Homo sapiens: one gene and its partners. The protein of the gene in region 4 purifies or fractionates together with the protein of the main gene of each other region. This does not show direct contact. Each region holds a gene or a part of one and is shown on either strand. Other genes may lie near its edges. The genes, in order: KHDC4, DOHH, TLE3 and STARD7.

Evidence for each region.
Region 1: the proteins of STARD7 (region 4) and KHDC4 purify together in Homo sapiens (affinity purification with mass spectrometry; 3 studies listed by BioGRID and IntAct, with this or other methods). This does not show direct contact.
Region 2: the proteins of STARD7 (region 4) and DOHH purify together in Homo sapiens (affinity purification with mass spectrometry; 2 studies listed by BioGRID and IntAct, with this or other methods). This does not show direct contact.
Region 3: the proteins of STARD7 (region 4) and TLE3 purify together in Homo sapiens (affinity purification with mass spectrometry; 2 studies listed by BioGRID and IntAct, with this or other methods). This does not show direct contact.

The regions. Positions count from the first base shown.
Region 1 is NC_000001.11:155,924,414-155,931,413, reverse strand, and holds part of KHDC4 (KH homology domain-containing protein 4), read left to right. Parts: intron 1-1,573; coding exon 1,574-1,702; intron 1,703-2,038; coding exon 2,039-2,118; intron 2,119-4,257; coding exon 4,258-4,310; intron 4,311-4,574; coding exon 4,575-4,738; intron 4,739-5,327; exon of another isoform or gene 5,328-5,456; intron 5,457-5,570; coding exon 5,571-5,782; intron 5,783-7,000.
Region 2 is NC_000019.10:3,497,661-3,505,381, reverse strand, and holds the start of DOHH (deoxyhypusine hydroxylase), read left to right. Parts: upstream 1-4,707; 5' UTR 4,708-4,821; exon of another isoform or gene 4,822-5,447; intron 5,448-6,375; exon of another isoform or gene 6,376-6,643; intron 6,644-7,721. UniProt on the Homo sapiens protein: Catalyzes the hydroxylation of the N(6)-(4-aminobutyl)-L-lysine intermediate produced by deoxyhypusine synthase/DHPS on a critical lysine of the eukaryotic translation initiation factor 5A/eIF-5A.
Region 3 is NC_000015.10:70,047,283-70,052,946, reverse strand, and holds the end of TLE3 (transducin-like enhancer protein 3), read left to right. Parts: intron 1-422; coding exon 423-573; intron 574-1,479; coding exon 1,480-1,556; intron 1,557-2,599; coding exon of another isoform or gene 2,600-2,662; exon of another isoform or gene 2,663-2,736; intron 2,737-2,742; coding exon 2,743-2,850; 3' UTR 2,851-5,157; downstream 5,158-5,664. UniProt on the Homo sapiens protein: Transcriptional corepressor that binds to a number of transcription factors. Inhibits the transcriptional activation mediated by CTNNB1 and TCF family members in Wnt signaling.
Region 4 is NC_000002.12:96,191,803-96,198,838, forward strand, and holds part of STARD7 (stAR-related lipid transfer protein 7, mitochondrial isoform 1 precursor), read right to left. Parts: intron 3,748-7,036; coding exon 3,539-3,747; intron 3,206-3,538; coding exon 3,156-3,205; intron 1,551-3,155; coding exon 1,440-1,550; intron 1,359-1,439; coding exon 1,276-1,358; intron 667-1,275; coding exon 567-666; intron 1-566. UniProt on the Homo sapiens protein: May play a protective role in mucosal tissues by preventing exaggerated allergic responses.

The DNA of each region.
Region 1 (7,000 bases), on a different chromosome or scaffold from region 4:
CATGTTGCCCACCCTGCTTCAGCCTCCCAAAGTGCTGGGATTACAGGCATGAGCCTGTTTGGTTCCTTCGTTCATTCTTTCTTTCTTTCTTTCTGTCTTTCTGTCTTTTTTTTTTTTTTTTTTGGTGATAGAGTCTTGCTTTGTTGCCCAGGCTGGAGTTCAGTGGCACAATCACTGCTTTCTGCTGCCTCAGCCTGCTGAGTAGCTGAGACTACAGTCTCATGCCACCGTGCCCAGCTAATGTTTTGTATTTTTTTAGAGATGTGGTTTTGCCATGTTACCCAGGCTGGTCTGAAACTCTTGGGCTCAAGCGATCCACCCTCCTCAGCCTCCTAAAGTGCTAGGATTACAGATGTGAGCCACCGGTCCCAGCCTTTTTTTGTAATTTATATATTTATTTTTGAGACAGAGTTTTGCTCTTGTTGCCCAGGCTGGAGTGCGATGGCGTGATCTCGGCTCATTGCAACCTCTGCCTCCCGGCTTCAAGCAATTCTGCCTGAGCCTCCGGAGTAGCTGGGATTACAGGCACGAACCACCACACCTGGCTAATTTTGTATGTTTACTAGAGACGGGGTTTCACCATGTTGACCAGGCTGATCACAAACTCCATGTAGTTTAAATTGAAAGAAACCGGATCAGGTTTTACCATCTTACTGTTTTTTCATTCTTCTTTGTTCTGCTGTAATAGAGTGAGGAATTATTAGTTAGATACAATTTAAGGGTTTTTGAGAGCTTTACAAGGATGGAGTTAGTTGGATTTTATGTTAGGATTATAGGAGTGGCACAAAGACAACTTCCTATTGTATGCATGAGGTATATGTATTGTAGGCATTGCTCCTCTACCTTCTATTGTGTTTTACTCCATGTACAGCCAACTAACTGAGCTATAGAGTATCATAACTTGGCCCTTTAATTTTCTTTTTGAAGGTTGTAGCTTCTAGTCCCTAGAGCTTCTGTAATTAGGTGGTCATAAAAATGCACATAGGGCCAAGGTCACAGAGAAATCTTGATTGTGGCCTTCAAGCAGATTGACTTTATTATTGACTTTATTTAATGTCATTTTAGTGAGATTTTTGTTTGCTTGTTAATTCGTTTATGAAGAATGACCAACTGTGTTTACAGGCAGATGAAGGGAAGGGTAGGGAGGTGTGGGACTTGGGAAAGGATAGTTGTACATTGGATGACTAAAAGGCTTTATCTCAGCTGGGCACAGTGGCTCACGCCTGTAATCCCAGCACTTTGGGAGGCCGAGGTAGGTGGATCACCTGAGGTCAGGAGTTCGAGACCAGCCTGGCCAACACGGTGAAACCCCGTCTCTACTAAAAATCCGAAAATTAGCTGGGCATGGTGCTGCACACCTGTAATCCCAGCTACTCAGGAGGCTGAGGCAGGAGAATTGCTTGAACCCAGGAGGCGGAAGTTGCAGTGAGCTGAGATCACGCCACTGCACTCCATCCTGGGCGACAGACTCCATCTCAAAAAAATGAAAAAATAAATAAGTAAATAAATAAAATAAAAAAATAGACTTTATCTCATCATAAAAACTTTTTAATCTAATTTCTCTTTTTTCTAGCTTCAGGCTCCTGGCAAAGGCCTAACTAGCAATAAAAGCAAGGATGACCTGGTGGTAGCTGAAGTAGAAATTAATGATGTGCCTCTCACATGTAGGAACTTGCTGACTCGAGGACAGACTCAAGACGAGGTGAGGAGGCATTGAGACTCTTTGGGGAGGGCGGTGAGTGGATTCAGATAAAGAAGACCTCTAAATAGACAGGCGTCAGATATTTATTAGTGGGTTTGGGTCATAGTCTCTAAAGTCAGGATTGGGTTTAATTTAACTTCAGAGGAAGATAATGGAATGGATATAAATGAATTCTCTGGGTTGGTTTGAGTAAGAAACCATGGAATCAAAATTTCAGATACAGGAGAGAATTCTTTCCTTCTTTACTTGGTTGAATGAATGAATGGGAAGAAAATCTGTCTGCCATTGAAATCAACCAATTGCCACATTTTTTTAATTGAACATTTCCTTTTTTAGATCAGCCGACTTAGTGGGGCTGCAGTATCAACTCGAGGGAGGTTCATGACAACTGAGGAAAAAGCCAAAGTGGGACCAGGGTGCGTATTCTCTTATCTTGTTTATGGAAGGGTTGGGTGTATGACTCACGTTAGCCTCATGTTTTTTATCCTTAGGTAATACGTGTACACAATATTTGATTCAAGGTTTGAGGGGTATGTGTGTGCACACTATAGCAGAATTCTGGATATCAAACAGATACAAGATGTTGGGACCTGTTTTTGGACTTTTATTTCACATTTAATGTTTTTATTGGAGGAAACAAATTATAGGAAAGTGTAAAAGAAGATACTAACCACTAACATTTAATGTATATACTCTTTTTTCTTCTTTCTGTTCCATATGATCTGCAGAAATAATGTATATACTTTTTTTTTTTTTTTTTGAGATGGAGTCTTGCTCTGTCGCCCAGGCTATAGTGCAGTGGCGTGATCTCGGCTCACTTCAAACTCTGCCTCCTGGGTTCATGCCATTCTCCTACCTCAGCCTCCCGAGTAGCTGGGACTACAGGCACCTGCCACCACGCCTGGCTAATTTTTTGTATTTTTAGTAGAGACAGAGCTTCACCGTGTTAGCCAGGATGGTCTTGATCTCCTGACCTTGTGATCCACCCCCCTCGGCCTCCCAAAGTGCTGGGATTACAGGCGTGAGCCACCACGCCCGGCATTGTATATACTTCTTAACTTTTTTCTGTGGAAATAGTTCCCCTCACAAATGGGCTCTTTTTTTTTTTTTTTTTTTTTGTCTTTATGATGGTTATAGTTTGTGATTATTCAGGTAAAGACTTAATCTGTTTCATTTTATTCCTTCCATCATTCCGTGTTTGAGTTTCTCTTCACTGTCAGTTGATAGGTACTTAGGGAATGCAACATTTTTAACATTAGCTTAAACTACACAAAATAAGGTGGCAAAATTTAATTCCTACCCCAAGCCAAGAATTTATTTATTTATTTATTTATTAGAGAAGGAGTTTTTGCTCTTGTTGCCCAGGCTGGAGTGCAATGGCGCCATCTCGGCTCACTGCAACCTCTGCCTCCTGGGTTCAAGCAATTCTCTGGCCTCACCCTCCCGAGTAGCTGGGATTACAAGCATGCGCCACCACACCCGGCTAAATTTTGTATTTTTAGTAGAGATGGGGTTTCACGATGTTGGACAGGCTGGTCTCAAAAGTCCTGACCTCGGGTGGTTCCCCTGCCTCGGCCTCCCAAAGTGCTGGGATTACAGGCATGAGCCACCGTGCCCAGCCCCAAGAATGTATTTAAACTTTCTATATGTGTTGATTGCTGTTTTGAACTTTGTCTTTAAAAAGTTATTTTTACCTGCTACTTTTTATTAACTATATATGGTTATTGATCACTTTATTATAATTTAAGTCCTCTTCACATTTAGAATCTAAATTATCAGTTGATGTAGACCTTAAGAGGTTTCTCTATATGCATGATCAATCTTTCCCCATTAATTTTGTGTGTGTGTGTGTGTGTGTGTGTGTGTGTGTGTGTGTGTGGTTTTTTTTTTTTTTTTTTTTTTTTTTTTGGAGACAGAGTCTTGTTCTGTTGCCCCGGCTGGTGTGCAATGGCATGATCTTGGGTCATTGCAACCTCCACCTCCTGGGTTCAAGTGATTCTTGTGCCTCAGCCTCCTGAGTAGCTGGGACTACAGGCGTGCCACCATGCCCGGCTAATTTTTGTAATTTCAGTAGAGATGGGGTTTTGCCATGTTGGCCAGGCTGGTCTCAAACTCTTGGCCTCATGTCATCCACCCACCTCAGCCTCCCAAAGTGCTGGGATTACAGACATGAGCCACAGCACCCAGCTTGCCCCATTGATTTGGATAGACGAGACCACATTTGTTTATAACCTATTAGACAACCAGCAAAAAGGAATTCTGTTCTTAAATATTGGGTTATCTCAATAGACTGGAAAATAATGGTAGTGAATCCATAAGAACAGATTTGATCTGAACTCTGTGGGCCAGTTGACTTTTAAAATCAAGAAGTTTATTTGTTCCCCAGCTGTTAAAGCATGTTCTGAGACATTAGCTAGCAAAAACCCTTCTAATGTATATAGTCCCTTTTGGTTATTTGGAAACTTGAAACATTACAAATTAGATCTGGTGACCCATTTGACTCCTTTTTTGGTTTTGACCACATTGAGATCATCCTTTTTTGTTTCTCTTTATAGGGATCGTCCATTATATCTTCATGTTCAGGGCCAGACACGGGAATTAGTGGACAGTAAGTAATGTTTTTGGCTCACGTAGCACTTTTTGTGAAGAGCAAAGTACAGGGCTCTGTATAGCAAGTTGGCAAAGTGTCCCTGATGGCTGTTCTAACCCTTGTTCATGAACTATACACGAATTTGTATGGGAGTTTAGAGGGATGGAGAGCCACATATTTGGGTAACGTATAAAGCAGATTTACGGTGAATAATTGAACACTGGCCTGCCTGGGCACTAGTCAGTTCATTCCATTCAGTTTTACTGTCTGTGTTTTTCTAAGGAGCTGTAAACCGGATCAAAGAAATTATCACCAATGGAGTGGTAAAAGCTGCCACAGGAACAAGTCCAACTTTTAATGGTGCAACAGTAACTGTCTATCACCAGCCAGCACCCATCGCTCAGTTGTCTCCAGCTGTTAGCCAGAAGCCTCCCTTCCAGTCAGGGGTATGTTTTGGGGAGGGATCGTTAATAGCATTATCATTTCTATAAAAATGATATGTGCTGGCCAGGCACAGTGGCTCATTCCTGTAATCCCAGCACTTTGGGAGGCCAAGGTGGGTGGATCATTTGAGGTCAGGAATTTGGACCAGCCTGACCAACGTGGTGAAACCCCGTCACGAACATTACCCGGGCATGGTGGCAGGCACCTGTAACCCCAGCTACTTGGGAGGCTGAGGCAGGAGAATTGCTTGAAGCCGGGAGGTGGAGGTTGCAGGGAGCTGAGACCATGCCACTGCACTCCAGCCTGGGCCACAGAGCAAGACTCCATCTCAAAAAAAAAAAAAAAAAAAAAAGTGCCAAGTAATACATACAAAGAAAAAAAAATCGTGAAATTCCAAATTCCAATCCCGAAAGTTACCTGCCATAGGTATTCTGTTTGTGTGTTATCCAGCTCTCCACGGTATAATGAACACCTGATCACACATTTCTTCATATTGATATATTCTAGAAAGGAGATTGATAGAGCAGAAGGTATACATGTTGTACATTTTGAAGTTAGTGGTTTTAATTTGTATTTGTAAACTTGATGACAACTGGAGGACTAAGAAGGCTGAGTCTGATGAAGTAAGACTTTGCTGATACATTCCTCCTAGAAAAAAGGGTTGGAGAGAGCAGCCTTCACTGAAGAGTATCACAGGGCTGACTGTACTACCCAACACTCTACCCCAGTTTTACAGGAGACTGTCTTTGCTATAATTTCTTATTGACTTATTTCAAAGATTGAGGATTTAATTATATATTCTGTTTAATCTGAAGTATTCTGTTCTTCCTACAGATGCATTATGTTCAAGATAAATTATTTGTGGGTCTAGAACATGCTGTACCCACTTTTAATGTCAAGGAGAAGGTGGAAGGTCCAGGCTGCTCCTATTTGCAGCACATTCAGATTGAAACAGGTGCCAAAGTCTTCCTGCGGGGCAAAGGTTCAGGCTGCATTGAGCCAGCATCTGGCCGAGAAGCTTTTGAACCTATGTATATTTACATCAGGTATGGATGGATAGGGCAGGGGACATGTGAATTCTTGTCAACTTGTTGGTACAGTCAGGAGTGATTCAGAAGGAGCAAGAGAAAACTGGGTGTAATTAATAGTAATGAGGGATTTAGATAAATGCTAGGAGTAATTACTTTATAATTAGTTAAAGAAATTGTAGAATTGGGGCACGGTGGCTCATGCCTGTAATCCCAACACTTCTGGAGGCCAAGGCGTAGGACCACTTGAGCCCAGGAGTTTGAGGCCAGCCTGGGCAACATAGCAAAACCCCATCTCTCCAAAAAAATTTTAAAAATTAGGCGGGCACGGTGGCTCACACCTGTAATCCCAGCACTTTGGGAGGCCGAGGCGGGTGGATCACGAGGTCAGGAGATCGAGACCATCCTGGCTAACAAGGTGAAACCCCGTCTCTACTAAAAATAAAACAAAAAAAATTAGCCGGGTGTGGTGGCAGGCGCCTGTAGTCCCAGCTACTCAGGAGGCTGAGGCAGGAGAATGGCGTGAACCCGGGAGGTGGAGCTTGCAGTGAGCTGAGATTGCGCCACTGCACTCCAGCCTGGGTGACAGAGCGAGACTCCATCTCAAAAAAAAAAAAAAATTAGCCAGGTGTTATGGTGTACACCTTAATCCCAGCTGCTCAGTAGGCTGAGGCAGGAGGATGGCTTGAGCCCAGGAGATTAAGGCTGCAGGTAGCTGTGTTTGCACCACTGCACTCCAGACTGGGTGACTGAGTGAGACCCTGTCTTAAAAAAAAAACCAGGTGCGGTGGCTCACACCTGTAATCCCAGCACTTTGGGAGGCCGAGGCAGGCGGATCACTTGAGGTCAGGAGTTCGAGACTACCCTGGCCAACATGGTGAAACCCTGACTCTCCTAAAAGTATAAAAATTAGCCAGGTGTGGTGGCAGGCACCTATAATCCCAGCTATTCAGCAGGCTGAGGTAGGAGAATTGCTTGAACCCTGGAGGCGGAGGTTGCAGTGAGCTGAGACTGCTCCATTGCACTCCAGCCTGGGCAACAGAGCAAGACTCCATCTCAAAAAAAAAAAAAAAAAGAGAAATTATTGAATTAGGAGACGGAATTATCTCTTTAGTATTCAAGTCCTTTGGTTTTGTACAAGTCTGTACAAAAGTGAATCTTGGCCTGTAATCCCAGCACTTTCAGGGCCGAGGCGGATGAATCAGGTCAGGAGATTGAGACCATCCTGGCTAATAC
Region 2 (7,721 bases), on a different chromosome or scaffold from region 4:
TAGTGAAACCCCGTCTCTACTAAAAATACGAAAAATTAGCCAAGCATCGTGGCAGGCGCCTGTAATCCCAGCTACTGGGGAGACTGAGGCAGGAGAATTGCTTGAACCCGGGAGGCAAAGGTTGCAGTGAGCCAAGATCGCACCATTGTACTCCAGCCTAGGCAACAGGGCAAGACTCAGTCTCAAAAAAAAAAAAAAAAAAAAAAAGGTTAAACATAGAATTGCCACATGACACAGCAGTAACACTCCTAGGTATCTACCCAAGAGAAACAAACATGTAACATCCACGCAAAAACTCACACACCTATGTGCATAGCAGCTTTATTCATAACATCCACAAAGTGCACACAACCCAAATGTACATCCACAGATGAAGGGAAAATGCTCCATTCATACAATGACACGGTGTTTTGCAATATGAGGCAATGAGGCTCGGACACAGGCTACAGATTGGATGAACCTCGAAAGCATCATGCCCAGTGAAAGAAGCCAGATACAAAAGACCACATAGTGAGTGATTCCATTGATACGAAATGTCCAGATAAGCAAATCCATAGAGACAGGAAGTGGATTAGTGGTTGCCAAGGGCTGGGAGAGGGGGATCAGGAGTGACTGGAATGGACTTTATTTTGGGGGGTTGATGGATATGTTCTAAAATTGATGTGATGGCCGTGAGCTGTGGCTCACACCTGTAATCCCAGCACTTTGGGAGGCTGAGGCGGGCAGATCACTTGAGGTCAGGAGTTCAAGATCAGCCTGGCCAATCTGGTGAAACCCCATCTCTACTAAAAATACAAAAATGAGCCGGGTGTGCTGGCGCGCACCTGTAGTCCCAGCTACTCGGGAGGCTGAAGCAGGGGAATCACTTGAACCCGGGAAGTGTAGGTTGCAGTGAGCCCAGATCATGCCACCACACTCCACCTTGGGTGTCAAAGCAAGACTCCGTCTCGGAAAAAAAAAAAAAAAATTTATGTGATGATGGCTGCCCGACTCTGAATATACTAAACACCACTGAATTATCACTTTACACAGATGAATTGTACAGTATGTAAACTATATCTCAATACAGCTGTTATTTAAAAAGTTCTTGCCCGGCGCAGTGGCTTGCGCCTATAATCCCAGTGCTTTGGGAGGCCAAGGAGGGCGGATTATGAAGTCAAGAGATCGAGACCATCCTGGTCAACATGGCGAAACCTCATCTCTACTAAAAATACAAAAATTAGCTGAGCGTGGTAGCACGCGCCTGTAATCCCAGCTTCTCGGGAGGCTGAGGCAGGAGAATCCCTTGAACCCGGGAGGCGGTGGTTGAAGTGAACCGAGATTGCACCACTGCACTCCAGAAAAAAAAAAAAAAATCCCCTTTGGAGCTGAGTTAAGGAGAAAAGAGAACAGGGAAAAGGAGGAGGCAAGAGGTTACAGTTTCAGATGCAGTGCTCGGGGATGCTCTTATTGCAAAGATGATGTTTTAATAAAGATCTGAAAGAGGAGCTGGGCGCAGTGACTAACGGCTGTAATCCCGGCACTTTGGTAGGCCGAGGTGGGCAGATTACTTGAGGTCAGGCCTTCAAGACCAGCCTGGCCAACATGGTGAAACCTCATCTCTACTAAAAATACAAAAATTAGCCGGGCATGGTAGCAGGCCCCTGTATTCCCAGCTACTCGGGAGGCTGAGGGAGGAGAATCGTTGGAACCCGGGAGGCAGAGGTTGCGGTGAGCTGAGATCGCGCCACTGCACTCCAGCCTGGGCAACACAGCAAGACTCTGTCTCAGAAGAATAAAATAAAAGGAGAGGAGAGGGAGATTCTAACACAGAAACACAGAGACAGACACACAGGGGTCAAGGCCAGGTGATGACAGTGGCAGAGATTGGAGTGACGAAGCCACAAGCTGAGAAACACCAAGGACTGGCGGCCACCCCCAGAAGCTGGAAGAGGCAGGAAGGATCCTCCCCTGGAGCCTCCAGAGAGGCCACAGATCTGCAGATACCTGGATTCCAGACTTCCGCCCCCCAGGGACTTGCTCAATCCCAGAGGACCCACCGAACAGAAGACGCAGACTTGGTTCTTCTGTGCTATCAGTTTCTCGAAGGTCTACAGAGGCCAGATGCCAAGTTCTCTGACTTACACAGGCCTTGCTTTTGGCTGAGGCTTCGATATCTGCGTCCTGCACCCTGGGATTATCTCCTCCTGGGGAGCATCCTTGGGGCCAGTCACACCTGGCACCCTGCCCTCGTAGCCTTCCTGAGTCAGCACAGCTCCTGGTCCACGGGAAGTCCTCCGTAAACAGCCTGAGCCACAAACATGTTGAGATGACGTCCTCGCAAGGCAGCTGAGGGCTGCAGTGATGCCTGTTATCTGCAGTCAGTTTTCCAACACATAGGAAGGCAATACAATAATTTAAAAAAAAAAAGGGGGGGTGGGCCGTGCACGGTGGCTCACGCCTGTAATCCCAGCACTTTGGGAGGCCGAGGCGGGCGGATCACGAGGTCAGGAGATCGAGACCATCCTGGCTAACACGGTGAAACCCCGTCTCTACTAAAAATACAAAAAAATTAGCTGGGCTTGGTGGTGGGCACCTGTCGTCCCAGCTACTTGGGAGGCTGAGGCAGGAGAATGGCGTGAACCCAGGAGGCGGAGCTTGCAGTGAGCTGAGATCGCCCCATTGCACTCCAGCCTGGGTGACAGAGCGAGACTCTGTCTCAAAAAAATAAAAGTGGGGGTGTCAGCTCCATGAGGCCAGACACTGTGTCTGTTTTGTCCTGTGTCCTCTGTGCCCAGGACACTATCCTCTGTGCTCAGGACACTGTCCAGCACACAGTAGTTGCTCAATAAGTATTTGTGAATGTTGTCTTAAAATAGAAGTTGGCCTTCCAAAAGGATTTCTTTGCTATGCACAGCATTTTATGTTTTTTCATTAATTTTTATTTAATTATTTTTTTGAGATGGAGTCTCACTCTGTCACCCAAGCTGGAGTGCAGTGACGCGATCTTGGCTCACTGCAACTTCCGTCTCCTGGGTTCAAGTGATGCTCCTGCCTCAGACTCCTGAGTAGCTGGAATTACAGGCACCCGCCACTAGGCCAAGCTAATTTTAGTATTTTTAGTAGAGATGGGGTTTCAGCATGTTGGCCATGCTGGTCTTGAACTCCTGACCACAAGTGATCCACCTGCCTTGGCCTCCCAAAGTGCTGGAATTACAGGCGTGAGCTACAATGCCCAGCCATGTTTTTTTATTAATTGCTCATTTTTTTTTTTTTTTTGAGATGGGGTCTTGCTCTGTCACCCAGGCTGGAATCCAGTGGTGTGATTACAGCTCACTGGATCCTTGAACTCCTGGACTCAAGCTATCAAGCCACCTGAGTAGCTGGGCCTACAGGCATGAGCCACCAGGCACAGTTGATTTTTTTTTTTTTTTTTTGGAAATGGAGTCTTGCTCTGTTGCCCAGGCTGGAGTGCAGTGACAGGATCTCAACTCACTGTAACCTGTGTCTCCCAGGCTCAAGCGATTCTCCTGCCTCAGCCACCCAAGTAGCTGGGATTACAGGCTGAGCCACTGCGCCCAGCCAAATTAAAAAAAATTTTTTTTCTGTTGAGACGGGGGCTTACCACATTGCCCAGGCTGGTCTTGGAATCTTGGGCTCAATCGATCATCCTCTCACCCCACAGCCTCCCAAAGTGCCAGGATTACAGGTATGAGCCACCACTCCTGGCAGTCACCCACATTTTAAAAATAAGAGATTGCAAGCAGGGCACAGTAGCTCACGCCTGTAATCCCAGCACTTTGGGAGGCCAAGGCAGGTGGATCACCTGAGGTCAGGAGTTTGAGACCAGCCTGGCCAACATAGTGAAACCCTGTCTCTACTAAAAATACAAAAAGTTAGCTGGTGTGGTGTTGCATGCCTGTAATCCCAGCTACTCGGGAAGCTGAAGCCTTTTTGTATTTTTAGTAGAGATGGGGGTTTCACCATGTTGGCCAGGCTGGTCTCGAACTCCTGACCTCAAGTGATAACACCCACCTCGGCCTCCCAAAGTGTTGGGATTACCGGTGTGAGCCACCGTACCCGGCCTCTTTCAGGTCTTTCTTCAGATGTCACCACCTCAGATTCTGGCCACCCTTCCTGAAACTGCACACCCTATACATACACCGCCCTTGGCTACCGAATTTTTTCTCGTTAGCCTTTTTCACCATCTAATAGGTATTGCATTTACTTATCGTGTTATTTTCTGTCTCTATAACAACACTGGGAGGCGTACGAGGGTAAGGGCTGAAGGCTCTCTTGTCCTCAAGGCCATGTACTATTTATTACATACATGAATGAATGAACGACTGCATTTCTTCCTTTTTTTATTCCTCACCTACTTAAGGTTCGAGCTCCCTGAGCCCATTGGCCAACACCTCTGGAGTCTGACCACGCCTAGAAACACTGCGCATGCTCCGTTGCTAGCCAGCCCAGGCAGGGCGCTGAATCGGCACAAACCAGTCTCACTTCTTGTACCGCAGTGGGGAGGTTGGAGAGAATTTTTTCCCATGAAAGGGCATACGTTGCCCGTCCCCTTCCCCGAAGAACGCACTAGGAATACTGTTCCTGCGTTTGCATGAGCTGTGGCACCAGCACCGACTCAGCCTTCCGGGCCTCCCTCATGCACGGAGCCTCTCACTAGGTCTCACCCGCGGCTGCGTTGGTGCCGTCCGGCACGGTCACGTGGGCGAGAAAATGGCGGCCCCCAGACCGCACTGCGGGCGTCGCGGCAGGTGAAGCGGTGGTGGCAGAGGCGCCTGCGGTTACTGGCCGGGCCGACGGGTCCTGAGTCTCCAGAGCTCGGTGAGGCGTCCCGGAGGCGGCGATCACGGTGTGGGGCCCGGGTCTGGCGGGCGGTGGCACCGGGAGCGCCTCGTTAGGGAATCCGGTCTCAGGGATTCGTTGACTGTGGATGGGGCGGGTTAAGGGGTCTCGAGTCCCGGCGATCTCTTTCCTCTGGGATTTTTTACATGAAAGAGTGCCCACCTCACGTCCTGAAGCTCCTATGTCGTACGGTTGGGTCTCAATGGTCCCCAGTGCCCTGCCAGCTCGCACAGGCCTGCCCTCTGGTTTCTGATGACCCCTCTTTAAAGGTGTCACTCTCCTTTGATGGTCACCTGTGCTTAGGTGGCTACACTGCCCTCGTCAAGCCCAGGCAGCCTTGCTGACGCCACTGTTCACCAGAGAGGGCTGCCAGCATGCCATAGCCAGCCTGTCTTGAGATGAAGCATCCGCCAGGTTCTCAGCCGATCTGGAAAGAGAGGGGTCCCTTCTCCCCTTGGCTGTGTTCTTTTATCCTAAGTCATTCAACAAAGCGTTGGTGGTTTAGAGCCCGACTCTGGAGCCAGACTTCCTGGATTCCTAACTCTTCACGCTGCTCCCAAGCAAGTTCCCAAGCACAGTCCCAAACTGTGCCTCAGTTTCCTCACCTGTAAAATGGGGACAATCTTAGTAACTACCTCACAGGGTAGTGATGTAGATCGAATGAATTAATGAATGTAAAGAGCATGGAGTGCCTGGCGCGTAGCAAATGCTACATAAGTGTCAGCTGCTATTGTCACGGTTGTCGTTTTTATTTTATTTATTTATTTTGAGACAGGGTCTTGCTTTGTAGCTCAGTCTGGAATGCAATGGCACGATCTCGGCTCACTGCAACCTCCGCCTCTCGAGTTCAGGCGATTCTCCTACCTCAGCCTCCCGAGTAGCTGGGATTACAGGCGCCCACCACCACGCCCAGCTAATTTTTGTATTTTTAGTAGAGATGGGGTTTCACCATGTTGGTCAGCTGGTCTCGAACTCCTGAACTCAGATGGTCTGTCCACCTCGGCCTCCCAAAGCGCTGGGATTACAGGCGTGAGCCACCGCGCCCAGCCGGTTATTGTTTTTATTGAGGCCCTACTGCGTGCAGGTCATTGCACTAAGTGCTGGGAATACAACAGTGACCAAGATAGACTCAGTCCCAGCCTTCAGAGTTCTATTCTAATGAGGGATAAGACCAATCACAAGCAACTAAACCAATACTTTCCAATATGATATCTAGGAGTCTTAGGCGCCGTGGAGAAAAATAAAGCTGAATAAGTGAAAAGAGATGGAAGAGTAACATTGTCCATTGTGATCAGGGAAGGCTTCCATGAGGAAGTGATGTTGGAGACCCAGGAAAGCAAGAGGATGAGCACGGGTGTTCCTGGACCAAACTGAGGGTCGGGCTGCTATTTCTCATGGTCCAATAACGAGATGCAGATTAACTGGGGAGGAAGAGAGTTTTTATTTCTGTAACCGGTTACAGGGAGAAGGCCTGGAAAATATCGCCAGACCAACTCAAAATGACAAAGTTTTCCAGAGCTTATATACCCTCTAAGCTCTCCATCTACATGTAACTGAGCATCCATCTAAAGACTTAAAGTGACTAACTTCTTTTAATCTATAACTAAGATCTGAATCCTGAAGACTTTCCTTTGGAACCTCAGTAAATTTACTTAATCTAAATGGGTCCAGGTGCTGGGGTGATCACCCTTATCTCATCTCCAGTGGGTCCAGGTGCTGGGGTGATCATCCTTATCTTGTCTCCTGCTAAATCATGGAGGTTTGGGGAGTTCTTCAGACACCCAGTAAAACTTGTTTCATCCTAAACGGGTCACATTAAGAATTCCTTCGTTATTGGCTGGGTGTGGTGGCTCAAGCCTGTAATTCCAGCAGTTTGGGAGGCTGAGGCGGGTGGATCACCTGAGGTTGGGAGTTCGAGACCAGCCTGACCAACATGGAGAAACCCTGTCTCTACTAAAAATACAAAATTAGCCGGGCATGGTGGTGCATGCCTATAATCCCAGATACTCGGGAGGCTGAGGCAGGAGAATCACTTGAACCCTGGAAGCATAGGTTGTGGTGAGCCGAGATAATGCCACTACACTCCAGCCTGGGCAAAAGAGCGAAACTCTGTCTCAAAAAAAAAAAAATTCCTTCATTATCTTGTCATGCCTTAAGGCCCAGGAAAGGCCTGGGCAAAACTCTTCATGGGCTTTTGTTACATTCCAGCCTTTGTATGAGGGCACTGGCTCTTTTAGCTTTTAATGTTTAACTTAACCACTCAGTCAGTGCTGAAACAGTTATGGAGGCCTGTGTTAGTGAGGCCTGGCCTGCTACGTGGGGACATCTAGGGAAGAATGTTCCTCATGGAGATCACAGCAAATGCAAAGGCCCTAGGGCTGCACTGGGCCTGGCGTGTTGGAGGAACAGCGAGGAGGCCTGTGTGGCTGGAGTGGAGCTAGAGAGGGAAGAGGTGATGGGAGATGGTCATGAAGGGCCTTTGGGACTGTCAAGTAGTTGAGTGAGGAGGCATAGGAGGATTTTAAGCAAGGGAGTGATATGGTCCAGTTTACATATTGAAAGTACTTCTGAATCTGTTATCTAAGCTGTGTAACAAAAATCCCCATAATGGCTGGGGGTAGTGGCTGATGCCTGTAATCCTAATGCTTTGGGAGGCTGAGGCAGGATGATCACTTGAGCTTGGGAGTTGGAGACCAGCCTGGGCAACATAGAAGTGAGACCCCATCTCTACAAATAATAAAAAAAAAATTAGCTGGGCATGCTGGTGTGTGCCTGTAGACACAGCCACTAGGAAGTCTGAGGCAGGAGGATCACTTGAGACTGGGAGTTCGAGGCTACAGTGAGCCGTGATCATGCTGCCGTACTCCAGCCTGGCGACA
Region 3 (5,664 bases), on a different chromosome or scaffold from region 4:
AATAATAGTAGCACCCTCCTAGGTCTGATGTGGGCACCTGAAATGATCCCTCTAAAAGGCGTAGCCATAAACCCGACTCACAGAAAGCATTCAGTAAATGCCAGGGATTATTATTTCTTATTTGCATTCCTCACTTTAATATTTTAATCTTAAATTTTTAATATTTTAGTTTTTTTTTTTTAACTCACTTTTTTCTTAAGGAAAGATGAAAGTCTCAGAGACAGAGTAACTGAATGCAAAATGTCTGTGCTTTCTCACCTATAAAATGGGGATGGAAAATGACCTCCCATACTCCTGGGTTATTGGGTGGGTGGGGAGGGACCCTGAGCCTCAGAGGACCTGAGCAGCACCTTTGGGAGCCGCCCTCCTCTTGAGGGCAGAGAATGCTGAGCTCAGTCCATCTGCCCTCCCACCACCTGCAGATCTTCTCGCTGGGCTACTGCCCCACTGGGGAGTGGCTGGCTGTGGGCATGGAGAGCAGCAACGTGGAGGTGCTGCACCACACCAAGCCTGACAAGTACCAGCTGCACCTGCACGAGAGCTGCGTGCTCTCCCTCAAGTTCGCCTACTGCGGTGAGCCTTGGATGGGCCCAGGCCTGATGGAGTGGGGTGGGGAACCCAGGGCAGCCTGGCCCAACAGGACAGAAGAGGGGCCCAAAGCTTATAGAATAAGCTAGGCCCTGGAACCAGGCCTCCTGACCCCTGAGCTGGTGCCCCTTCAACACCCTTAAGTGATCTTGTTCCACATCCTTGTTTCTCGGATGCAGATGTCACCATGAGTTATTGAACTCTCAGGACACTAGGCCAGAGCCAGTTCTTGCAGGCTTGGGGCAAAGGAACAGGACAGTAGCAGTGCAGGCAGTTCCTCTCCATGGTTACAACCACTTGCTTTGGCATCTGAGAGCCTTGGATGGGAATGTCTGCTCCTCCACTGACAAGCTGTGCAGTCTTGAACATCTCACCCTCTCTGAACTCTAGTGGATTTTTCTCTCTGGTCGGGAATAGCATGGTGCTCATGGCTTTCAGGGAGCATAAGGGCTTTAACACTTGTAGAGCCCTGGCCGAGTTCCTGCTTGGAGGAAGGTCGCCCACTGACTGCTGTCTTCAGCCAGGTCTCCAGACTCCCAGGGCTTGGATATTTTCAGTATTTCCTGTTGCCTTCCAGTAGTAGAATTTAGAAAGGCCAGTCAACCTTAGTGGCTTTAACAAGAATCTTTTGAGGCAGCGTTATCACTGCAATGAACTTCAAATCCTACCTTTTCCCATCCTAGCCCCGCCCAGCCCTCCCCCTGGATTTCAGAGAAAGGCCTTCTCCAGGTGTCCGCATGTCCCATTTGCAAAATGCCTCTCGAAATTGGAGAGTTATACTAGTTAGCAGTTCTCACTGCTTTTCTATGGCAGCTGGCCATGTCTAGGGCAGGTCTTGCTTTAGAGGGCAGTGAGCTACAACCTGATCATGCCTTTGCCTCCCACCTGCAGGCAAGTGGTTCGTGAGCACTGGGAAAGATAACCTTCTCAACGCCTGGAGGACGCCTTATGGAGCCAGCATATTCCAGGTACTGCCCACCGTCTGAGTCCTCCTCTGGGTTCTACCCAGAGTTGAAACTTGGTGATGGTGATGGGAGTGAGGATAGCAGCAGGAAGAACAGGAGGAGCCTGGAGCCAGGATCAGACCTGCCCTGGTCCCCTCCCCACCCCTACCTGATAGGGGAGCAAGATTGGGTTCTCCCAAGGACCTGGGGACTTCAGCAGGACACACAATCTGCTACTGATGGCTTCTGACCCCCGAGGGCAAGGGCTTCTAAGCCGGGGCGCTTGTCGGATTTGGAGAGTGAGGAATAGCATAAGTGTTTTTGCTCTGGGCTGGATGCTGAGCACCTGCGGGAGGTGCGCTGGGCACCTGGGCACCCGGCAGCCTTGCCCAGAGCAGTGTTGCCTCCTCAAGTGAGTGAGTGTTTCCACCTGCATTCAGCACCAGCAGGGACATGGACAGGAAAGAGAGGAGGAAAGGAAGAGGCTTTTTATAATCTACCAGGATCTGGGGCCTGCCATACTGCACTGATTGGCACACACACGTGTGCACACACACACGTGCACTCTTTCCCATACACGATCAAACTCACACTCATTTACTCACGCACACTTGGTCTCCCCCACACACTTTCTTCCTCTCTCTCTCTTGCGCTTCCACACACACACTTGCATTCTCTCTCACTCCCTCAGCCAACATGCCGCTTTCTGGACCCAGGCTGAAATGTCTGGTGTGCAGCGTGTCAAACCTCATTGTTAGGGTCTCTAGTTACAGCACATGCTTCAAACATCAGGTGGCAATCCTTTTCCTAACTCATCAGGCTGTGGGCCTGAGCTGCTGACGCCAGCTCCTAGCTTGGAAATGCTTCTTCCTATTTGTAAACTCGGAGGAGAAGCTCTTGCTAAAGCGTCCTGTTCTGATCATTATGACTTACTGTAAAGATCACGTGGGAGACTGTTACTGAGCTTTTCCTTATGGAAAAGCAGGTGGGAGGGGAGCTCTACCTGAAAATGCTTCATGGGTGCTTTAAAGCCTCCCCCACCTCCTCTTCACCGCACTGTGCTCCAGGTCGGAGCATCAGAGAGGGGCAGAGGAGGGCAATTGTTGCCGAGAGAACCGAGATGGTGTTGAGCACTGGAAAATGAATTCCTGTCTTTTTTCTCCCTGCACCCCACGCCTTCCTGCTGCTTCTCCTCGTCTTCCTCCTCCAGTCTAAAGAATCCTCGTCTGTCTTGAGTTGTGACATTTCAGCGGATGACAAATACATTGTAACAGGCTCTGGTGACAAGAAGGCCACAGTTTATGAGGTCATCTACTAAACAAGAACTCCAGCAGGGCTGTCAAACTCTGGGAGAAACCGACTCGGCTCTGACAGGGAGACCCCCAGGCGAGGGGCCCCGAGGATGGCGGAGGATGGGCCGCAGGCAGCCGAGCGTTCAGGGCTGCGCTCCGGCCGGCTGAGAGGGCACGTGCCCCGTCACAGTCTGGACTCCTGGGCCTGGATTGATGTGTCTCACAGACTCGGAAGGGTTCTGCTCCTCCTCCTCCCCCTGAACAATGCTGGCAGTTGCTACAAATAGATTTATTGGAGGCTTATGGCTCCGGTTCCCCCACAGACCCGCTCATGAGTCTCTGTTTGTTCTTCCCTTTTCTTTTGCCCTGTCCCTCACCTTGGGTCGGGGGTGCTGGAGTGGACCACAATGTTGTGCTGGGGGATGGGGGGGTCTCTCTTTGCCGATTGTGCAGTGCACAAGATTTGTGAAAAATGTAAATAACAGACTCCTATTGCGGACTGATCAGTGGGAGAGGAGGCCCCTTCCCACCGGAAACTCTGAGTGTGTATTTCGCCTGCTGTATTTGTAATCCACTCGTGGTGGTGGCTTTTTTTTTTTTTTTTTTTTAAATAAACAGATGCTCTCACCTGGGAAGAGGAGACAGGGAGGGGAACCAATTGAAGAAAGAGGAGAAAAGTCTTAGAGTGTGGAAAAGGCAACCAGGTTGGCCGTAAGGTGCCTGCTGGAATGCGTGTGCCTCCACACGGGTCTGGGCATCCGGACTGATAACCAGCCGGCCAGACTGAGGGATGGAAGGCACTGAGATGGGGGCCCGTCCAGGCGGACACCCGCAGAAATGGAGCTTTCTGTGGTCTCTTGCACTCTGGCTGCCTCTTGCCCTCTCTGTGTCTCTCTTTCTTGGTCTCTCCCTCTCTCCTCCTCAGCCTGGTCTTTCTCTTTGGTGCACACTTAGTTATTGTTGTGAGCAATGGAAGTTCAAAGGAACTCCCTCTCCAGCTCTTCTGAATCTTGGGACACAGCCTAAAAAGGACAAAAAGTTAGAAGACAGCATAGCAACTCAGCTCAGGGAGCTACCAGAGAAAAATAGCAACTGATGTGGGTGCTTTTTTTTTTTTTTTAATTTGAATAAAAAGAATTAGAAGTGATGTCCTTTTATAAAATGCCTTCTCCCCCTTCCCGCCTACAGTCTCTTCCTCTCCCCTTAGAGGGGGGAAAGTGTATAAACCTACAGGGTTGTGAGTCTGAAAAGAGGATCCCCCTCACCCCCACCCTGGGCAGAGCAGTGGGGGTTGGGGGGTGGGAGAGGGGGACACAGATCCTGGCACACTGTGGATATTTCTTGCAGATTGCAGTCTCTTGTGGCCCAAACAGGTTAGGTAGACTATCGCCTCTGGCAGGTGCCACCTTTTGGTACCAACATGTTCTGAGGTGTTAGGATTTGGGTTGGGTTTTTTTTGTTTGTTTTTTTTTTCCTTTTGGTCTTTTTTTTTTTCTCCTTTTAAAGAAAAGCTAAAGGCCGCTGTGAGTCCTGGTGGCAGGCTCTCCATGGATGTAGCATATCGAAGATAATTTTTATACTGCATTTTTATGGATTATTTTGTAATGTGTGATTCCGTCTGCTGAGGAGGTGGGAGGGGCTCCAGGGAAAGCCACCCACCTTCAGTGAGGTTGCTCCCCAGCTGAGCGCACCGGGCATGGGATGTGGAGGCTGGCGACACACCCTGTGCCTCTCCAAGGCTGGGCGCGTGGGGCGTCCAGAGTCTCTCTGGGTCTCAGATGTCCATCTGCCACCTCTTGTTAAGGCTCTAGCCAGAAGGGAGGGTGAGGGTAGAAGAAAGTTATTCCCGAAGAAAAAAAGAATGAAAAGTCATTGTACTGAACTGTTTTTATATTTTTAAAAGTTACTATTTAAAGGTTGGTTTGATTGTTGCGTCTTAATTGCCTCTCCCCCCAGTTTGCCAGTCCCGCCCCCCGCCCCCCGGGAAAACAGCCAGGCCACTGTTGCTGTCACATTCTGGAGCCTGGGCCAGGGCCATTTCCCATCGATGTGAGCTCTTCTCATCTCACAGCATTCCCTGCGCTGCTTCCACCCCCTTCTCCCCTTCCAGATACCCAGCATCGCAGCAGGGATTTCACAATCCCATACTGTGTCGCCTCCCATCCAAGCGCCAGGGAGGGTGGGGGGTAGGAGCTAAGACTTCCTCTGGACAGATGGGCAGGGCAGAGTTCACTGAGGTGAAGGAAGACCACAGGTTAACACCAAAGTATTGTACAGCTGTCAATGCAAAACTTTTTTGGAAAAAAATTAAACGTAATGAACTTGAAGCGAAACTGCAAAGTGTCTGTGAACATCTGGACCTTGGAAACCTGCACAATTTTATTTTAAGCTTAACACGTTTAGGTGGGACGAGGAGATCTTCAATCTCTAGGTCACAAAGGTGTGTTTTTGGATGATACAGAAGGAAGCATTTGCAGAAGAGGCAGACCCAGAAATGCAGGTCATTGTCCCCAGGGAGGGAGTCGGGGGGCTGGGCGGGAAGAGGAGAATGCTGGTGCCCATTCCCGGGGCGGTCCCCAGGCTCTTGGATTTCATGCACCCATTAGCAAAAGCTCTCAGGGCACTGGAGATTAACATGGTTTCCAACTCCTTATTTTGTCAAAGTCATTCTCAGCACAAACAATTGCCTGCTGTCATTTCATACAAGAAAGGGAATCTCACATTTAAAAAAAAAAAGAGGAACGACAGTCTCAGCATAAAGCACAGTCTTTATGACTAGAAGGGACAACTGGCCTCTCTCCACACAGAGGGGTCATTTAGCTGGAGAGGGAGGTCCTCTC
Region 4 (7,036 bases):
TAAGGTGAAGTGGAACTAAAACCAGCAGCCACTAGCATCAATATCTATACTCTCAGTGGAGATTTAGCTTAAAAAGATAAAAAATAAACACAAAACACCTCATTAGGCTGAAATAAATATTCTTTTCAAAGAAAGGTCACAGAATTTTAAAGAAGGCAGACAGCATGAGTCCAATCTTCCCATTACTCTGGCAAGGAAGCAGAAATCCAGAAAAGTTTCCATCCAGTGCTCTGCCCACTGTAGTAAAATGTTGACAGGAGGTACTCGCTCTAGTTCCTGAAGAATGCTACTGATACAGGCTAATGCGTCAGTGGCTATGATTCTTTTAACTATCTCTCAGATAAGAGGGAACCAATGGATTGCCACTACTTTGTCCTTGGGGAACTTCCAGGTACATCACCTACGTCAGGAGTTCCCAAAAAATGGTTCCCAGACCAGTAGCATCAGACTCCCCCGAGCGAGAACTGTTCCTGCGCCACACCCCCTCCTCCCTAGTTCAGGTAAGACATCCCTTGAGAAAATTCCACAGCCATGACATGTTATCTCTTGGATGAGGTAAAACTCACCTCATCAAATGACTTGTGGGGACGGATAACCATTTGGGATTCATATGATCTGACCCTGACGAATTCTGGAGACTCTGGCACACTCGGATGCTCCACAGCACTGGTAAGGAGGAAAGGAGAAGCAAACTCTTAGTAATGTCTATATATAAAACAACAGGAGAGCTAAGTTAAGGGGAAGGCCTAAAAAGCTGGCTCTGATATTTTTAAATACACAAAACAAAGGAGTCACTAAGATGAATAAATACAAACTAAGTTCTAAAAATGAAGCGAAGGCCAGACGTGGTGGCTCATGCCTGTAATCCCAACACTGGGAAGCCAAGGAAGGAAGATCACTTGAGGCCAGGAGTCCAAGACCAGCCTGGACCACACTGTGAAACCCTGCGTCTACAACAAACAAATGAATTAATTAAAAATGAAGTGAGTTCCTTTGGTAATTTACGGCTCACTAGGCTGTGGGTCAAAAACAACAGCACTTCTTTTGATTACCAACATTAAAGAACCCAAAAAAACAGTTTAACTAAAAGCTTGTATCTCTCCATTCTTTCTAGACAGTCAGAGTCCCTCATCTTCTAGCTGGATGGAAGGGGCACTGGCTGCAGGGAAGCCTGTGGGAGACTCATAGGACACTAAGAATATACAAACTCAGGTACGTAGGAATGAAGGCCACAGCTAAAGGAACTCGGCAACAGCCACAGGCAGCCATACATACCGCGACACCAACACCATCATGTTGTTTTCCTGATCCACACTATACCGCCGAACATAAACATAATCCCGTGAGTACATTGGATACTAAAGAAATGGAGGAGCAGGATTAGTGTTCTGCATCACACAAACCTGGACAGAAATAAAATCAGAAGTAAAAATACTCACAGGAAAATGGGTTACCCAGTGAAGAACCTCGGAACCACTAACCACATCCCTCTCAATCACCTCCAGCTTGATTACCAGGGCATCCCATTTTTTTCTATACTCTGTGTCCAGCTGCAGAAAGAGAAAAGACCATGAATACCCAAGAAGACCCAAAACAAAAATGCAGAAAGCTTTCCAGATGCTTTGGTCTCTGATCCAAGAATCTTATTACAAGGAGAGAGTAATCTGACCTAACAGACAGTGCCAGAGTGTGAGAGACATGGCTGTGTTTACTACAGATGTTTCTTTCAAAATCACCTTATACAGGCTAATGTCATTACACTGAATGTGAATCTTCATTAGACAAACCAAGGAAAAGTGTAACAAAATATTTTAATAGACACATCTGGGGAAAATAATATATAGTGATATGAATGTGTAAGGGTAAGACAATTCTAAAAAGTTTTAAACAACAAAAAGTCCAAAAGTATTAAGTAGACACTTCACACACAAAAATGCAAGCAGCATATTTTTTTAAATTTCTGGCATCACTAGTAACTGAAGATTTTCAACTTAAGACAGATATACCATATACATAAAACCAACAAAAATTCACTACAAATTAACAAGATCCAGTACCTCAGGGAAAGTGCACTTGCACGTTAGAGTGAGTGTTATAACCAACGAAGTAGTTATCGGAAGTCAGCAAAACAAATGAAAAATCCAGAAAGAAAAAAATTTTGTTCTAGAACTCTGGGCGATCCCACCTCCCTGTTTCATTTTTTAAACCATCTTCCCCTACAAGGAGGAAAGCAGTCTTTGAACAGATACTCTTCATCTTTATGAAATAAACATTGGGCCAACACAGTGACTCACACCTGTAATCCCGGCACTTTGGGAGGCAAAGGCAGGAGGATCACTAGAGCCCAGGGAGTTCAAGACCAGCCTAGGAGACATAGGGAGACCCTGTCTCTAAGAAAAAAAAATTTTAATTAGCCAAGTGTGGTGGCGCATGCCTGTAGGCCTGGAAGCTGAGGTGGGAGGATCACTTGAGTCCAGGAAACAAAGGCTGCAGCAAGACATGATCACACCACTGTACTCCAGCCTGGGTAACACAGCAGGACCCTGTCTCAGGGAGAGGAAAGAAAAAAAAAAACCCTCCACTATGGAAATGTTCTTGATTTGAGGTTAAACAGATGTGACAACTAAATATAATCCTATCTGTACTGAAGTGGAAAATGCTATAAAGGACATTGAGTCAACTGATAAAACTGATAAATACAAACAGAGGACTACATGAAAGTGTTCCATCAGTGTTAAATTTACTAATTTCAATAATGGTATCATGATTAGTTAAGAAATACGGCATATGGCTAGTTTTAGGAAATACACACTGGAAGAATTTAGGAGTAAAGGACTATGATGTATGTAACTTACTCTTAAGTTGTTTGGGGAAAAAAACAATAAAGCCTCATAAAATACATTAAAGTATTCATATCCATTCCTCTATCTGATATTCCCAACAGTCCTGTGGGAGGGTAAAACTGATCTCATCCCCATGGGACAGATAAAGAAATTCTAAGTCAAATGTTTACCTAAATGCTATGCAATGTGGATGACAGGTAGATAGATGGATGTACTTAAGCCAATGTCACCTGAGTCAGATAAATGATTCATGTAGACAGTAGCAATTGATATGCTAGGAGGCTCCAAATCTGGAGAGAAAAATTAACTCACCTGAACATTGAAGAACTGCCGAGGTGTCACATCTGTGTAGGTTCCAAAAACTAGAATGAAAAGAAAGAATAAGGGATGCTGGCCATACTCCAGTCACTCGCCTTGTTTCTTTCACCTAGCGGCGTTTCAGATCTAAAGTACTAAGAGATCTTAAAGGCAGGTTCAGAAACTAGAAGTCTTAGTAGAGCAACAAAGAAAGACAAAGAGGATGTAAGCAAAGACAACACTGAGACATTTGTCATCTGGGAGAAGAAAAACAATAAACAAAAAACTACGGCAAATTTTCTGAGAAACAACCAGAACAGTTTAGAGAAGTATGAAGAACAGAAATCCCATGCACCTGTGCAACTATGGAACCCAAAAGATAGCCACACTGGGCTCACCTCGGTACTGGTAAAGGTGGGTGCCTGTAATTGGGCGCCGCCACAGCTTAAAGTGTTTCTTATCCATCACCATTTCCCAACGTTGCTCTTTGCCCTCTGAATCTTCATTCCCTTCTGTTTGGGCTTTTGGTTCTGGAGGGTGGTGCTGGACTCCAGAGCTCTGAAACATATTTGACATTTCTTCCAACCGCTTCATCTCATTAATAGATCTGTAAAGGGGAAAAAGAGCCATGGTGAGGTGGTTAGTCAGCCCTGTGAAATGAAGTGTCCACACAAAGGTCTGTGCAAGAAGGTTATACAGTAAACCACAGTATGTAGTATATAAACAGGACACAGTATAGTCAATAAAAACTGAGTTCCTGAGTTTGAATCTTAGTCCAACACTCACTAACTAGATTATTATTTAACCAGTTCCTATTTCTAAATCTATAAAATGGAAATAATAATAGTACCTATCTCGAGGTTGGCTATAAAGATTACAAAGTGTCAAGTGCTGCAGGGCGTGGTGGCTCACGACTGTAATCTCAACACTGGGAGGCAGAAGAGGGTGGATCACGAGGTCAGGAGCTCAAAACCAGCCTGATCAACATGGTGAAACCCTGTCTCTACTACAAACACAAAAATTAACCGGGCATGGTGGCGCGCAACTGTAATCCCAGCTACTCAGGAGGCTGAGGCAGGAGAATGACTTGAACCTGGGAGGCAGAGGTTGCAGTAAGCCGAGATCACGCCACTGCACTCTAGCCTGGGCGACAGAGTGAGACTCTTGTCTCAAAAAAAAAAAAAAAACAAAAAACAAAAAACAACGAAAAAAAAGTAAGTGTCAAGTGCTTAATATCTATGGCCAGGCACAGAGGCTCACTCCTGTAGTCCCAGCACTTTGGGAGGCCAAGGCAGGAGGACTCCTTGAGGCCAGGTTCAAGACTAACCTGGGAAACACAGTGAGACCCTACCTCTAAGAAAAAATTTAAAAAATTAGCCAGGCATAGTGGCACATGCCTGTACTCCAAGCTATAGGCTGAGATGGGAACATCACTTGAGCCCAGGAGTTGGAGGCTGTAGTGAGCTACAATTCTGCCACTGTACTCCAGTCTGGGCAATACAGTAAGACTCTGTCTCTTTTTTTTGTTTGTTTTTTTGAAACAGAGTCTCACTCTGTCACCCAGGCTAGAATAGAGTGCCATGATCTGGGCTCACTGCAACTTCCGCCTCCTGGGTTCAAGTATTTCTCCTGCCTCAGCCTCCCCAGTAGCTGGGACTACAGGCACGCGCTATCATGCCCGGCTGATTTTTTGTATTTTTAGCAGAGACAGGGTTTCACCGTGTTACCCAGGACGGTCTCAATCTCCTGACCTCATGATCTGCCCGCCTCGGCCTCCCAAAGTTCTGGGATTACAGGCGTAAACCACCGTGCCCAGCTACACTGTCTCTTAAAAAATAAAATAGGCTAGGCGCAGTGGCTCACGCCTGTAATCCCAATACTTTGGGAGGCTGAGGCAGGCGATCACCTGAGGTCAGGAGTTTGAGACCAGCCTAACCAACGTGGAGAAACCCTGTCTCTACTAAAAATACAAAATTAGCTGGGCACGGTGGCACATACCTGTAATCCCAGCTACTCGGGAGACTGAGGCAAGAGAATCGCTTGAACACGGGAGGCGGAGGTTGCAGGGAGCCAAGATCGTGCCATTGCACTCTAGCCTGGGCAACAAGAGCGAAACTCCGTCTCAAAATAAAATAAAATAAAATAAAATAAAATAAAATAAAATAAAATAAAATAAAATAAAGCCAAGCACAACGGCTCACGCCTGTAATCCCAGACTTTGGGAGGCCGAGGTGGGCGGATCACCTGAGGTCAGGAGTTCGAGACCGGCCTGGGAAACATGGTGAAACTCCATCTCTACTAAAAATACAAAAATTAGCTGGGCATGGTGGTGGACGCCTGTAATCCCAGCTACTCGGGAGGCTGAGGCAGAAGAATCACTTGAACCCAGGAGGCTGAGGGTGCAGTGAGCCAAGATCGCACCATTGCACTCCAGCCTGGGCAACAGAGTGAGACTCCATCTCTAAAATAAATAAAAAATAAAATAAAATAAAGTGTTTGTTATCTGGCACGTAAGTAGCCCTCAAATGTTAACTATGAAGGTTTATGGTTTTAAAATGTCAATTGATATCTTTTGTCCGTTTTTTATTGGGTTGTCTTATTATAAGTATGTATGTATTTTTCCCCTTTGTTTTTAAATTGATAAATTCACATACCATAAGATTCATTCTTTTACAGTGTACAATTCTGTACTTGTTAGTATATTCACAAGGTTGTGCAACCATCACCCCTAATTCCAGAACATTTTTATCACCCCCAAAAGAAACCTCTATCTATCATTAGTCACTTCCCATTCCTGCCTCCTCCCAGTCCTAGGCAGCCACTAATCTACTTTCTGTCTCTATGGAGTTGCCAATTCTGGACATTTCAAGTAAATGGAATCATATGATATGTAGCTTTTGTGTTGAGCTTCTTTCACTTAGCATACTTTCAAGTTCAACCATGCTGTACTTTATTCCTTTTTATAGCTGAATAATATTCCATTGTATGGATAGATCGCATTTTGTTTATCCATTCATCAAATAAAATTTGTTTCCACTATTTTATTATAGTGCTATTATAATAGCACTATATTATATTACTGCTATTATAATACTGCTGGCCGGACGTAGTGACTCATGCCTATAATCCTAGCACTTCGGGAGGCCAAGGTGGGTGGATCACTCTGAGGTTGAGTTCGAGACCCAGCCTGGCCAACATGGCAAAACCCCATTTCTACTAAAAATACAAAAATTAGCCAGGTGTGATGGCAGGAGCCTGGAATCCCAACTACTTGGGAGGCTGAGACAGGAGAATTGCTTGAACCCAGGAGGTGGAGGTTGCAGTGAGCCAAGATTGCACCACTTCACTCCAGCCTGGGCGAAAAGACAAAACTGTCTCAAAAAAAAAAAAAAGAATACTGCTATGGACATTTGTGTACAAATCTTCATATAGACATGTTTTCAATTCTCTTGGGTAGATTCCTAGGAGCAGATTTGATGGATCATGGTAACTATGCTTAACTTTTTAAGCAACTGCCAAAATGTTTTCCAAACAATTACACTATTTTATATTCACATCAGCAATGTTTGAGGATTCTAACTGCTCCACATCCTTGGTTCCAATTGCCCCACTTGTTATTGTCCATCTTTGTTATTCCAGCCAACTTAGTGGGTGTGAAATGGTATCTCATTGCGTCTTGACTGGTATTTCCCTAACCTTTTCATGTGCTTATACTAGTCTTGATAGTATCCTTTCATGCATAAAAGTTTTTAATTTTGATGTTTATTTTTTCTTTGATTGCTTGTTTTTGGTGTTATAGCCAAGAAACCACTGCCTAATCCAAGGTCATAAGAACTTATGCCTATATTTTCTTCTAAGAGTTTTAGAATTTTAGCTTACATTAGGTCTTTACCCCA